4 separate regions of the Homo sapiens genome follow, and regions 1, 2 and 3 are each reported to be linked to region 4. Evidence: microRNA targets listed by miRTarBase, many of them from high-throughput screens and not tested one by one. Region 4 holds a microRNA gene; each other region holds the end of a gene's coding sequence.
What was found. Region 4 holds the annotated microRNA hsa-miR-548t-5p (CAAAAGUGAUCGUGGUUUUUG, at 1,075-1,095, opposite strand). A microRNA usually pairs through its seed, bases 2 to 8, with sites in the 3' UTR of a target mRNA and lowers its output. Matches are read on the target gene's strand: a 7mer-m8 pairs with bases 2 to 8, a 7mer-A1 pairs with bases 2 to 7 and ends in A, and an 8mer does both.

Region 1: miRTarBase lists RAMAC as a target of hsa-miR-548t-5p. Seed matches in the 3' UTR shown: 7mer-m8 at 980-986.
Region 2: miRTarBase lists TRIM37 as a target of hsa-miR-548t-5p. Seed matches in the 3' UTR shown: 7mer-m8 at 1,549-1,555.
Region 3: the mRNA of ZNF180 is a reported target of hsa-miR-548t-5p. Seed matches in the 3' UTR shown: 7mer-m8 at 2,601-2,607.

What each region holds. Positions count from the first base shown.
Region 1 is chr15:82,989,833-82,992,832 of GRCh38, forward strand. It overlaps RAMAC (RNA guanine-7 methyltransferase activating subunit), which reads left to right. Exons shown (of 4, transcript NM_031452.4): 4 at 49-1,225. The coding sequence ends at 235. It also overlaps a transcript of C15orf40 not described here. Among named protein-coding and RNA genes, the nearest start is that of RAMAC, 5.1 kb to the left of the region's middle.
Region 2 is chr17:58,996,535-58,999,781 of GRCh38, reverse strand. It overlaps TRIM37 (tripartite motif containing 37), which reads left to right. Exons shown (of 24, transcript NM_015294.6): 24 at 323-1,580. The coding sequence ends at 405. Among named protein-coding and RNA genes, the nearest start is that of TRIM37, 110 kb to the left of the region's middle.
Region 3 is chr19:44,473,535-44,476,781 of GRCh38, forward strand. It overlaps ZNF180 (zinc finger protein 180), which reads right to left. Exons shown (of 5, transcript NM_001278509.3): 5 at 909-3,247. The coding sequence ends at 2,868. Among named protein-coding and RNA genes, the nearest start is that of ZNF180, 25 kb to the right of the region's middle.
Region 4 is chr4:173,266,017-173,269,263 of GRCh38, reverse strand. It overlaps MIR548T (microRNA 548t), which reads right to left and starts at 1,104; the gene lies at 1,031-1,104. All of the region lies in intron 2 of GALNT7 (polypeptide N-acetylgalactosaminyltransferase 7), which reads right to left. LOC124900812 (a long non-coding RNA gene) reads left to right here. Exons shown (of 3, transcript XR_007058367.1): 2 at 1-3,247.

The DNA of each region.
Region 1 (3,000 bases), not on the chromosome of region 4:
TTTTTTAACAAGGGAAGTTTAAAGATCTTTTTTGTTTTATTGTTGTAGGTTGCAAGACAACAGACAGTTCAGAGGCAGGGACAACAGATGGGGGTGGCCAAGTGACAATCGATCCAATCAGTGGCATGGACGATCCTGGGGTAACAACTACCCGCAACACAGACAAGAACCTTACTATCCCCAGCAATATGGACATTATGGTTACAACCAGCGGCCTCCTTACGGTTACTACTGATAGAAATGTTGGCAGCTTTTAGTAAAAGCATTTACTCTGTTACCATGAGAAAAGTTTGGGTGTCTTCTGTTGGTCATAGTTTTACATCTGATTTTACAGAATGGATTATTGATTTTTTGGAAGTTGAGACTTTAAAAAAAATAGATCTTACTTGCGAAATGCGATGGTTGCTGGGAATACCTGAAACTGTGGATTATATTGCTTGACTTCTACCTCAGAATCTTCTTTGTTTCATGACTTAATAGTGCTTTAAGTTTGGTATATTATTTGACCTCTAGGAATTCTTTGTTTTACACAGAAATAAAAATTTTAAAATAGAAAATGCTTTTACTTTGTAAGGTAAGAGAGTATCCATATGCTTAGATGTGCTCGTTTCTAAAATTCTAGAGGTTGATATAATCAGCTCATGAATGCACAGCTATGCTTTTTGTGATAGATTGTACATAACATCAGCAGTTGAAAGGTAAAACAATTGCTTTTTTTTTTTTTTGCATTTGTTAAGTGACTATGGTACTTTGTGATTCCTTAATCTATAGATGAGTCAGCTCCACACTTGAGTCTCTTTTTAGAGGGAAATCAGTAATAAAGCTGTAAAATAAGGAAGGAATCATTGTCAGTTTGTGTCTTGATCTGGTGGTGGTTGGGATAAGGGTACACATCATTTTATACAAACACTAAAGCTTTTTGCTAACAACATAGCAGGTCAAAATTCACACATAAGAAAGTTTAACTCTGTACTGTTCACACTTTTTAATCCTGTAAATAATGCTGCATTTTGATGGTTCTTACTTTTTTGGTATTTAATGTGGGCTGATTTTACAATGTTATATTCACTTCCAGATGCATACCTCTGCTGCTTTCTCTCCTATAAATAGTGATGCTATAAACTTCCTTTCACAGAGATCATTCTATTTCAAATCACTTTAATGATTATTACAATGATTTCATTCAAATAAAAATTTTAAAATATTTAAGCATCTTCACTCCCAAGTTCTGGCAGTTAGCCCATTTATTAATATGGTGAAATGAGATTTTTGGGTTTTTTTATGCTGTCCTTCATATCTGTTGAAAAGGGCTTATTTGGTTTAACAGTAACATTAAGAGTGCAAATTTCAACATAGGTCAAAGGAATTAACAGGCACCTTCCTGACTTTATTAGAGTGACAAAAAAATATATATATTTAAAAAGGCGTCTTCCAGCCAGGCATGGTGGCTCATGCCTGTAGTCCCAGCACTTTGGGAGGCTGTGGGCGGATCACTTGGGGTCAGGAGTTCGAGACCAGCCTGACCAACATGATGAGACCCCGTCTCTACTAAAAATACAAAAATTAGCCGGGTGTGGTGGCACATGCCTGTAATCCCAGCTACTCGGGAGGCTGAGGCAGGACAATTGTTTGAAGCCCAGAGGCGGAAGTTGCAGTGAGCCAAGATCGTGCCACTGCACTCCAGCCTGGGCAACAGAGCAAGACTTCATCTCATAAAAAAAACGGGGGCATCTTCGTAAACCTATTTTTAATGCCTTCTCTCTTAGCACCCCACTCTAGGCCCTCGAGGTTGACTTCTCCAGGTACTTCATGCTCTCCATCTACCTCTCCCTTTTATTCTCCCTTCCTGAAGAGCCATCCTCTCGGGTAACTGTTTTATTGGAAATGACCTAATAAGTCGGGCAGTCACACTAAGATGCAAATACAATTTTAATAGTAAGGGTTTTCCCTGTAACCTCCCTAATTACATCAGTAGGCAAGAAGCCAGTGCTGTTATATAAAGATAGGATTTGATACTACAGATATTTAGTCTAGATAGTAATGTCCTGACTACACCCCAGAATCTTCTCTGAAAGCAGAAGTGTTATCAAAAATATCACCTGGTTGGGTATGGTGGCTCACACCTGTTATCCCAGCACTCTGGGAGGCCGAGGCGGGAAGATCACTTGAAGCCAGGAGTTCGAGGCCAGCCTGGGCAATGTAGCAAGATCCTGTCTCTACAGAAAATTTTAAAATTAGCTGGGTGTGGTGGTGCACGCCTGTAGTCCTAGCTACTCAGGAGGCTGAGGCAGGAGGCTCCCTTGAGTCCGGGAAGAGTTCAAGACTACAGTGAGCTAGGATCATGGCACTGTACTCCAGTTTGGGCTAGATAGATGCTGTCTCTTAAAAGTAATGATTTATAGGCTGGGCACGGTGGCTCACAGTTGTAATCGCAGCACTTTGGGGGGCTGAGATGGGCAGATCACCCCAGGTGAGGAGTTCGAGACCAGCCTGGCCAATATGGTGAAATCCTGTCTCTATTAAAAATACGAAAATTAGCCAGGCATGGTGGCGGATGCCTGTAATCCCAGTTACTCGGGAGACTGAGTTAAGAGAATCACTTGAACCTGGGAGGTGGAGGTGGCAGTGACCTGAGACCATGCCATTGCACTCCAGCCTGGGCAACAAGAGCGAAACTCTCTCAAAGAAAAAAAAAAAGATTTATAAAATCATCTCCTGAGAAAGCACAGGCACTGACCAGTAGTTGGGACAGTATAGCTGACTGTAGCTTTAGGTCAGGATTCTGTGCTGTGCCAGCTGTTGACACAAAGGGAGATGTATGGGTCCAAGGCCAGCGCTGGAGGAGTACTTCTCAGGAAGCTCAGAAGAGAGGTGGTTTTCCAACAGTATTTAAATGTTTTAACACCCAACACAGCTAGGCTGCTTGTGTCCTGAGTATCAGCCGTGCTTGAAAAAATGGGAGGAAACCTTTTAACATGAGTAAATTCTGCATGCTGCATG
Region 2 (3,247 bases), not on the chromosome of region 4:
ATATACACCATTGCTTCTTGTTCCCTTTTTAAGCTGTCCCCAGATTGTCCCCAGGAGGACAAAATGAGACAATTCCTGTCATCTTTTAATTGTGGGTGTCTATTACACATTTTGTTTTTTTCTCCTTTATTTTTCCTTTGTGTTTGCTTATACCTGACTCAGATCACAAATTCTCTGAAGACAGAGATTTGTTCACAACCCAGCACATCTTTATCACTTAAATAACACATTTGGTAAGATTATTTAAAGACTTGGGAAGGAAAATACTGCCCTTGTTATATGCTTTTAAATTTTAAATTTTTTATTTATTTTTTAATCATAGATACACATTCCAGTTTTCCTGATGGTGAACAAATAGGCCCTGAAGATCTCAGCTTCAATACAGATGAAAATAGTGGAAGGTAATTGCCAAATCAAGAGAACTGACTTGCAAGCTACCTTGACCCTGAATTTTGCTGTAGTTGGTGCTCAAATTTGTCATCAGTCAGATAATCAGATTTGGTCTTATTTCTTCATTATCTCGACCTGAAATAGTAATTTGGAAACTGTTGGAAGGTGGCACAGTTTAGTCTAAGACAGCAGTAGTACATGGGAAAAACAGTATGGGAAGAGTTCTTTGTAATGTAAGGAAATAACAATGTAGTTCTCTATTAATTTAGCAAATTTGTACATTCACAAAAGGCAGTTTGTCTACTACAGCAGAAGGCTGGTTAACTGCCAGAAAATGTACCTCCAGGCCCTGCATGCCGTCAGTAACCCGCCCGGCATTGGTGCTCTACTGTCTTTGGCTAGAGCTTAGTTGTGTTTAAATAATCATCTTTATATTTGGGGTTTTAATTACAGTTCCATTAGTGCCTGTAGATTAGTGAACAGAAAATTGCTTTGGAAGAGATTCTGCCCTGTAGACACTATGTGAATAACTGAAGTAACACTAGACTGAATCTCCTTTTTGGAGTATGTATCTTCTCTCACTTGTTCAAGTACAGGCACACTGTTCAACCGCATGGTATCTTTCTGTTGTGTGACTTCTACAAATGTAATTTTAAATGAAATTAAGTTAACATGGATTCATTACGTTCCTGGCCCTGTAGACACGTGTAAGATTATTTAAAATTCTTTCATTTTTTTCTGCCTCTTACTATACGACTGTAGTGCAACAAATATTTTAAAGCCCCCTTTTCTTCTTTATTTTCATTAGTTGTACATTGATTTCAGTGTCAACACATTTAAAGATTCATTCATGTTGCACAGTGGCTTACATGAACGTGAAACTGTGATATAAGGTTTTCTTTCATACTCATAATTAGCCCAAAACAGTTGCCAAACTTTGCCATTGTGCTCCTGCATTTGTGTTTGAGCTGCTATATATTTGTGGAAATTACACTGAAAGTTGACTAAGAGACTATTGAAAAAGCATGAATAATTAAATATACATGTGAGAGACATCTCATCTGCTGTATTTTACTTAGTGAATATTGTTCACTCTTCCGTGTCTGATGTCTTGCTGAATGCTGTGACTCATAGTTTACTTTTGTTCAAAATAGTTTGCACTTTTTGTTAATAAAATCAACTTGAGAAAATATGCCTCTGCTGTTTATTAAATTGGGACCAGAAACCCCTTCTTTTCTACTCATTGCCTCATTAGTAGTGTAGAGAAGATCCAAACATTTGATTAGTTTGTGTTTAGTCTAATGGCGAGGAGTGATGCCTAGCATCGATCCCAGTCATTCTAAAATTAGAATAAACCTGAAAGGCCAAAAGATTTCTTCAGAGATGATAGCTTTTAGTTCAGACCTGTTTGCTTTTAGGACAGGAAAGTAGTTTCCCCCTCGTTTCCAAGCCACCTTATATACTAAAGCTGCTCTGAGTTCCTTGGTGATGTCGGGAACACCGCTGTTTTCCCTCTTCCTTGATGTAGTCTGCTATGCTAAATTTTAGGTAGCAGAGAGGGAAGGAAGAGGCACAGGAGAAGAACCAGTTGCTCCACTCTCTGCTTGTCCTACTTTCTTGCTCTTTCTGTACCCTGATAGAGCCCTCAGCATGTTTTTTTATTTTTATTTTTGTAACCTTTCCTTTTTTGCTGAAGAACAGTCTGCTGTTACCTTGCTTCTGTATTTAGTATTTTATCTCAAGTTCATTCCTGGAAAATCTCTCCTGAATAGAGTTTTCTTAGGGCTAGAGATACATTAATGCTTGTGTTGTCTGTGAACGTGTCCTTTCTGGACAACTTTAACTACTTGTGTCATTGATCTTTAAGTAACCTTTGAGGTAGATGAGTTGTGTATCAAACCTGTTTGGCCATGGAGCCTTAGGTTCAGGGAGGTTGTATGATTCTCTTCAGGTTCAAAACCACTGGCAGGGATGGGGTGAACTGCTGGTCTAGTGCCTTTTCCACTTTATCTCACTTGCAGCAGACCCAACATTCTGATACCTAATAATTTAAAACCTAAAGATTATTCTTTTTTTTTAGCTTTTAATTTTGAGATAATTTCAGGTTTGCAAAAGAGTTGAAAAAATTGTGCAAGAGTTTCCGTATACCCTCTGCCCAGCTTCTCCTTTTGTTAATGCCTTACATAATCACAGAACAGTGATCAAAACTAAGAAGTTAATCCTGGTTGCAATATTGTTTACCAAACTACAGAATTTGTTCAGATCGCACCAGTTATTTCACAAATGTTCTTTTTCTGTTCTAGGATCCGGTCTAGGATCCCACATTGTATTTTGTTACCATGTTTCCTCAGGATCCTTCAGTATATGACAGCTCTTCCGCCTTTCCTTGCTTTCATGACCTTGATATTTTTGAAGAGGATGTGTTATTTTATTAAATGTTCTTCTTATTTGGGTTTGACAGATGCTTTCCTATATTAAATTGAGGTTATGCATTATTGGGAAGGCCCTTAGTGCATCACATCAGGGGGGATATGATGTTGATATATAAATATACATATATATACATACATACACACACACACACACACACACACACACATATATATATACTTTTTTTTTTTTTTTGATGGAGTCTCACTCTGTTGCTCAGGCTAGAATGCAGTGGCACCAGCTTGGCTCACTGCAGCCTCTGCTTCCCAGGCTCAAGTGATCCTCCCACCTAAGCCTCCTGAGTAGGTGTCCACCAACACACCTGGCTAATTTTTCTATTTTTTGTGGAGATGGGGTTTCACTCCAGGCTGGCCTCCAACTCCTGAGCTCAAAGTGATCCCCCTGCCTCAGCCTCCCAAAGTGGTAG
Region 3 (3,247 bases), not on the chromosome of region 4:
GCTGGAATGCGGAAGGGGCTCTTCTGCGGCTAGGTGTGGGACCCTGAGCAGGAATGTGGAGAAATGGGCAGGTAAATGCATCACGTTGGCCAGGAGATTTGCAAGGACTTACAGCTGAATGATGATAATGGGGAGTGACTGTGAGGCCCTGGGAGTCTCTGAGTGTAAAGGAAGATAGGTGTGGGGCCCCCAGGGAGTATGTGGGAGCCATTGCTGTGTAGGTGGAGGTAGTTGGGGAATAATCTGGTGAGCTCTGTGAATTTCTAGGGTTCTCCTGAATGCTGAGGGGTGACTCTTGCAGAAAACTGAGGATGCTTGGAGAATAGCTGGGAGACACAGATGAGGCCCTAAGGAATGGTGGTATAGAGGTGACAGAGATAAGGGAGGAGCACAGTGAGGTCTATGAGTTTCTGGGTGACTCCTGTGTGTTCAGGGCTGACCCAAGGAGAAATCTGGGGATGGTTGGAGAGGAGCTGGGAGACACAGGAGAGTCCCTGAGGGTTGCAGGTGAAGAGATGGGAGACGTGATAGAAGAGGGCCCTGAGATTTTTGTCTATAGGTGATACTTGGGTTTGGGAAGCTGAATGTTGCAGTAAGCTGGGGATTGAGAGAATCTGGGAGACACAGGAGAGTACCTGAGGGCCTGGAGTAAAGAGTTGGGAGACATGGGGCCAGAGCCCTGTGAGGTCCCTGAGTTTCTGCTTGTTACATGGGTGTCAGGGCCTGACTGTTACAGAAATCTAGGAATGATTGGAGAGTAATTGGGAGACATGAGACTCCCTGAGGGCTGGTGGTGAAGAGATGGGAGACATAGGGGAGGATCCCGTGAGGTCTATGAGTGTCTCTGTAATTCCTGGGTGTGGCAGGCAGACTGTCACTGAATATGAAGAATGTTCATGGCTTATATATTTTTTATTTTTACTTTATTTTCTAGGTCTCATCATAGCTCATATATAACACTCAAAACATCATTAAACCATCTAATCTAATATTCGACCATATCATTTCTTTCTTTACACGACTTGTGAGATAAGTAAGATATCAGTTAAAATTTTCATTTCAGCATCTGTTTTTCTCATATCCCCTTTGTGCTTCTTAAAGATGGTTAAAATAGGACAGACAGACTTGGAACTTTGTTCAACTGTCTTAGGAAAAGACCATTGCAGGGGCACAGTCTTTCAACCCCACTGGCCATGTAAGACTAGGCCTGGAGCCTGGAACACATCCTTCCCAAGAGATACTGAACCTCTTTCAGACTCATTGAGGGTTCTTCAAAGTGTGGGTCAGTGGTCCCCAAGGGATGCCCGCAGCTTTCAGTATTTCACACTCCATGAAAACATCAGCAACTGTTTTCCCAGACCTGACACTGCCAGGTGTGCAACAATCTCTGGATTAATCCTCATAGAGATGGCTCCACTTAGGGTCATCTCATAGGGATAGAATTTTGCTAAGGATAACCCCATCAGTTACCCTTTAAGTTTTCTTTCCTATCCCAAGGGTATTAACCTCTATTATCTGGTCTCTCAGTTCAACTTTCAGCTTATTACCTTTCTGGGATCAGAGGCTTCAATATATGGTCATCCACAGGATTCAAATTCATGATTCAAGGGAAAGGTCAGAAAGACATGTTAATCAAATCTTAAATATCAAAGAGTAACTAAAACTTTGCCTCATGAAAGCATTTTTGCAAGCATAATTTAGACGGTCAGCACTGAGCCAGGGAAGCACCCTTCTATTCAGAGGACTCTCACATCAGGGAACATATCCCAGAGGAAAGAGACAATGCTACATGAGGGGAAGAACTAAAACATGAAAATAGAGTTCCTTAATATTGCTTTGCATATATGAAAATAAGCCCACTTGCCCTCTATACTTCCCACGCATTCTCAGTTCTTCATATGAAACCATTTCTGGCCAAAATTTCTAGTTACCTATTTCCAGGAATCCATTTTATTTTCAATGAGGAATGTTCCTAGGAATCTATGTCCTAAGTAGTAATCTGCTCATGCTATTCCAAACATAAACCTCATTATCCTGAGGGATCTTTGCTATTTGGTTGCTTAGTCTTTCCTAAATAGTCAAAGAAGGAAATCTTTGTATTTCATTTTTGGCTTTGAATAATTTTTACTCATTATATCATTTATCATAGCATAACAGCGTACATTCCAAAAAGGAAGGCCCAACATAAACTGAGAAATTGAATAGATACATCCATAATCCCTTTCTATTCTAATCCATACACAAATATTTTATCATAATGGTTTTAGAAGTGAATATTATTTCTATATTCTTTTCCCACACTTTTCACTATATATCATAGACACTTTCCTAAAATTTATAAAATCTTCACATGTAACAACAGCAAGTGCTGTAAGGAACAGATTACAAGCTATCTAATTGGAAGATCATGTAGTAAAATGATGCACTAAAATATGGTTTTCCAGCCTAAGTTCTAAACACTACAGCAACCTTTAAATTTTCTCAATAAGCCCACTAGTGTTAGCATTCCATTTACTCTTTATGGAAAAAGAGGTCTAACACTGGCAGTTGGCTTTGGCATATGATTTTCTCTGATTCAGGTCTGAGTGCTTTCTGCAAGGAAAAGTGCCAGTATTTATTATTTTCATAGGAATATGTCATAAGAATCAAGTTTAACATTGTATATGGAATTGCCAGGTTGAAAAGTCGTTCATAGACTTTCCCCCTTTCTTTTCCAGAACAAATTTGAGACACACAATTAACAGAGGGCTGGAAGTTTTCCCACATATATTGTTTTTATAGTAGTTCTTCCAACTACATGTACTACCTTAAAATAAATTTTTTAAAAGAATGAAATAAAAAGGAAGAAATCCCAGCTGATTTACAAACTAGTTACATTCATAGAGTTTCTCTTCAGTATGAGTTGCCTGATGCCTAATAAGTTTATAGCTATTAATGAAAGCTTTTCCACACTGAATACATGTAAAGGGTTTCTCTCCAGTATGAGTTCTTTGATGCACAATAAGTCGAGCACTCAAGCTAAATGTTTTTCCACACTGATTACATTCAAATGGTTTCTCTCCAGTATGAGTTCTCTGATGTTGAGTAAGGCATGAACTCTGTCTGAAGGACTTCCCACATTGACTGCATTCATAGGGCTTTTCTCCAGTATGAGTTCTCTGATGTACAACAAGAACATAACTCTGGCTGAAGGATTTCCCACACTGATTACATTCATACGGTTTTTCCCCAGTGTGAATTCTCTGAT
Region 4 (3,247 bases):
GAAAAACAAAATTTGATGCTTTTTGGTCTTCACATTTCTAAAAGCCATTATCAGATTTCATTTTTGAAATAAATTAACAGACAAAAAATATTTTGTTTTGTTCTGTGCCTCTGTTGTCTGAGTGCCCCTATAATAAGACATGCTTATCTGACAAACATCAGAGGAGCCATGCCCCTCTGAGAAACATCTTCACTGTTACTGAGATTTGGGTTTATTATAATGGGGTACTGGGCATTTTGCCCACTAACTATATAGTAAATATTTCTGTGATTAACCTGAGCCCCATACTAAATATACAAAAATTCAGTGGCTCCTTATTATTTGTGGATTCTACGTCCACAAATGTGGATTGCAATTGGAGATGCCTGATGGGCATGCACACGAGGATGTTCTGTTTCTTGTTTCTGCTCATAGAGTAAACAAGTGTCCGGGTGCGGTGGCTCACGCCTGTAATCCCAGCACTTTGGGAGGCCAAGAAGGGCGGATCAAGAGGTCAGGAGATTGAGACCATCCTGGCTAACACGGTGAAACCCCATCTCTACTAAAAATACAAAAAAAAAAAAAAATTAGCTGGGCGTGGTGGTGGACGCCTGTAGTCCCAGCTACTCGGGAGGCTGAGGCAGGAGAATGGCGTGAACCTGGGAGGCAGAGCTTGCTGTGAGCCAAGATGGCGCCACGCCTGGGCTACAGAGCGAGACTCCATCTCAAAAAAAAAAAAAAAAAAAAAAAAAAACGAGAGAGAAAACAAGTGTCCTATTTGCAGTTTGTTTGGTGCCACAGATTTTCTCATTTTTGTGCTTTTAGTTGGTAATTTTGCTGTTTAAAACAGCCTCCCGAGAATAATGTCAGTGTGCTACCTGGTATCCTAAGCACAAAGATGCTGTGCTGTGTCCTGTGCAGAAAATCCACGTGAGACAAGCTTTGTTTGGGTGCGAGTTACAGTGCTATTGGCCCTGAGTTCAATGTAAACCCATCAACGTTATAGGTAAAATAAAGTGTCTTTAAATAGATACATGCCTAAAACAAGGTTAGGTTGGTGCAAAAGTAATTGTGGTTTTTGTCATTAAAAAATTGCAAAAACCACGATCACTTTTGCACCACCCTAACATTTTTCTTCACTTCTCTTGACGCAAATTATAGATTCAATCACCCAGCACTTACAAGCAAGCATTTCTTTATCTTAGGTTGACCTTAAGAACTTCTTTGTATTTACTAACTTCCTTTAGGACTCCTCCTCTTTTGTAGTAAGACGGCAGGATGAAATACAATGAAGAGGGTACCATATTTTAAAGATAAGGCTGAATACCACACACCTGGCATGATGAGAGGCCTATACAGAAAAAAGAGCTTCTGAAGCTTCTCTATGCCACACAAGGGATGAAGGTGGCCTCCAACAACTGTGACCTCCAACCGGTGGAGCTCATGTGTGATATGCCTTTTATGTCCTTTAGCACATTTGTTACCCACAATAACTTTACAAGCCAAGTATTATTATCCACAATTGCTAGAAGAGGAAACCAAAGCTCCCTAAATGCTCAATATCATGCTCATCACTCTTTCAGCTCTGTATGGGATTCCCAAAGTGAACCTCATGTGTATTTATGAACTTGGCACTCTCGGATACCATGCAGCACCCCTCATTTTCTGTGAGCTCTGCTTGCTGAGGTGAAGACTCTGCTGCAAAGGGGCCCCTGGTCCTGTGAAGCTGGTCCCCCTGCTGTGCCTATTCTAAGGAATGGCCATTGCTGATGACATTTGCTGGTCTGTGCCCAGGCATGGTTTCCTGGCGCTGCAGAAGCCACTGGCTGGTAATCTGCCTATGGGTGTCCACAAACCCTCAAGTACAGAAATTTGCCATCCTTCAGTTTGACAGGCATTTTAATGGAATGCTCTTTCAGTGTATCTCCCTAGCATTCAGGTACGCGTTTCAGGGGCCAGGCTGGAGGGTGATCTAAGTGACAGGCATGGTACAATGGTAAATTTTGCCCATACCCTCAACACTGATCCTCTACTTCTAGGCCATACTAAGGTGGCTTTTAAAAATTAATATATGATAATAGTACCTATTTATGGGATACATGTGATATATGGATACATGCATATAATGGGTAATGATCAAAGCAGGGTATTTAGGATATGCACCACCTCAAACATTTATCATTTCTTTGTGTTGGGAACATCCCAAATATTCTTTTCTAGCCCTTTTGAAATACACAATACATTGTTGTTAACTATGGTCACCTGCTGTCCTATTGACCATTAGAACTTATTCCTTCCAGCTAACTGTATGTTTATAGCCATTAGCCAACCCCTCTTTATCCCACATCCCAGCCCTCCACACACACACACACACACACACACACACACACACACACACACACACACACACACACACCCTTCCCAGCCTCAGGTAGCCGTCATTATACTCTCTACCTCCATGAGATCAAATTTTTTAGCTTCCACGTGAGTGAGAACATGCAATACTTGTCTTTCGGTGCCTGGCTTATTTTTAACATAATGTCCCCCATGCTCATCCATGTTGCCGAAAATGGCAGGATTTTATTATTTTTATATCTGTTCTCTTATTAATAGTATAACTTCTTACAACTTAGATTTAAGCAGAGGCCCTTCTACATATAATTGGAATTTTATATGTCCACATTTAAAAAGAGTTACCTTGGGATTGATAACATACTTCTTTTGCTCCTAAGTAAAAATTTTTATTACTATAAAATGTTTCACAAATGTATCAAAAATACTACAATTAAAACTACTGCTCTGATCAACACACTTTCGTGCTCTTTTGTCTGGTATAGTGAAAGGTCGGTCCTAGAAGACCTGGATTCATTCTTCTCAGCCACTTAATTTAATCCTGGATGATCACATACTGTTTATACTTGGGATTCCTTATCCACAAAGTGAGGGATCTCTCACAGTACCAAGGAACCCCTCTGGCCCCCTTCAGTTCTAAAATTCTTTTCTTTTCTTTTTCTTTTTCCTTTTTGAGACAGAGTCTTGCTTTGTTGCCCAGGCTGGAGTACAGTGGTGCTATCTCAGCTCACTGCAACGTCCGCCTCTCGGGTTCAAACAATTCTTGTGCCTCAGCCTCCTAAGTAGCTGGGATCATGGCCGCACGCCACTAGGCCCAGCTAATTTTTTTGTATTTGTAGTAGAGACAGGGTTTCGCCATGTTGGCCAGGCTGGTCTCGAAATCCTGGCCTCAAGTGATCCATTTGCTTCATCCTTC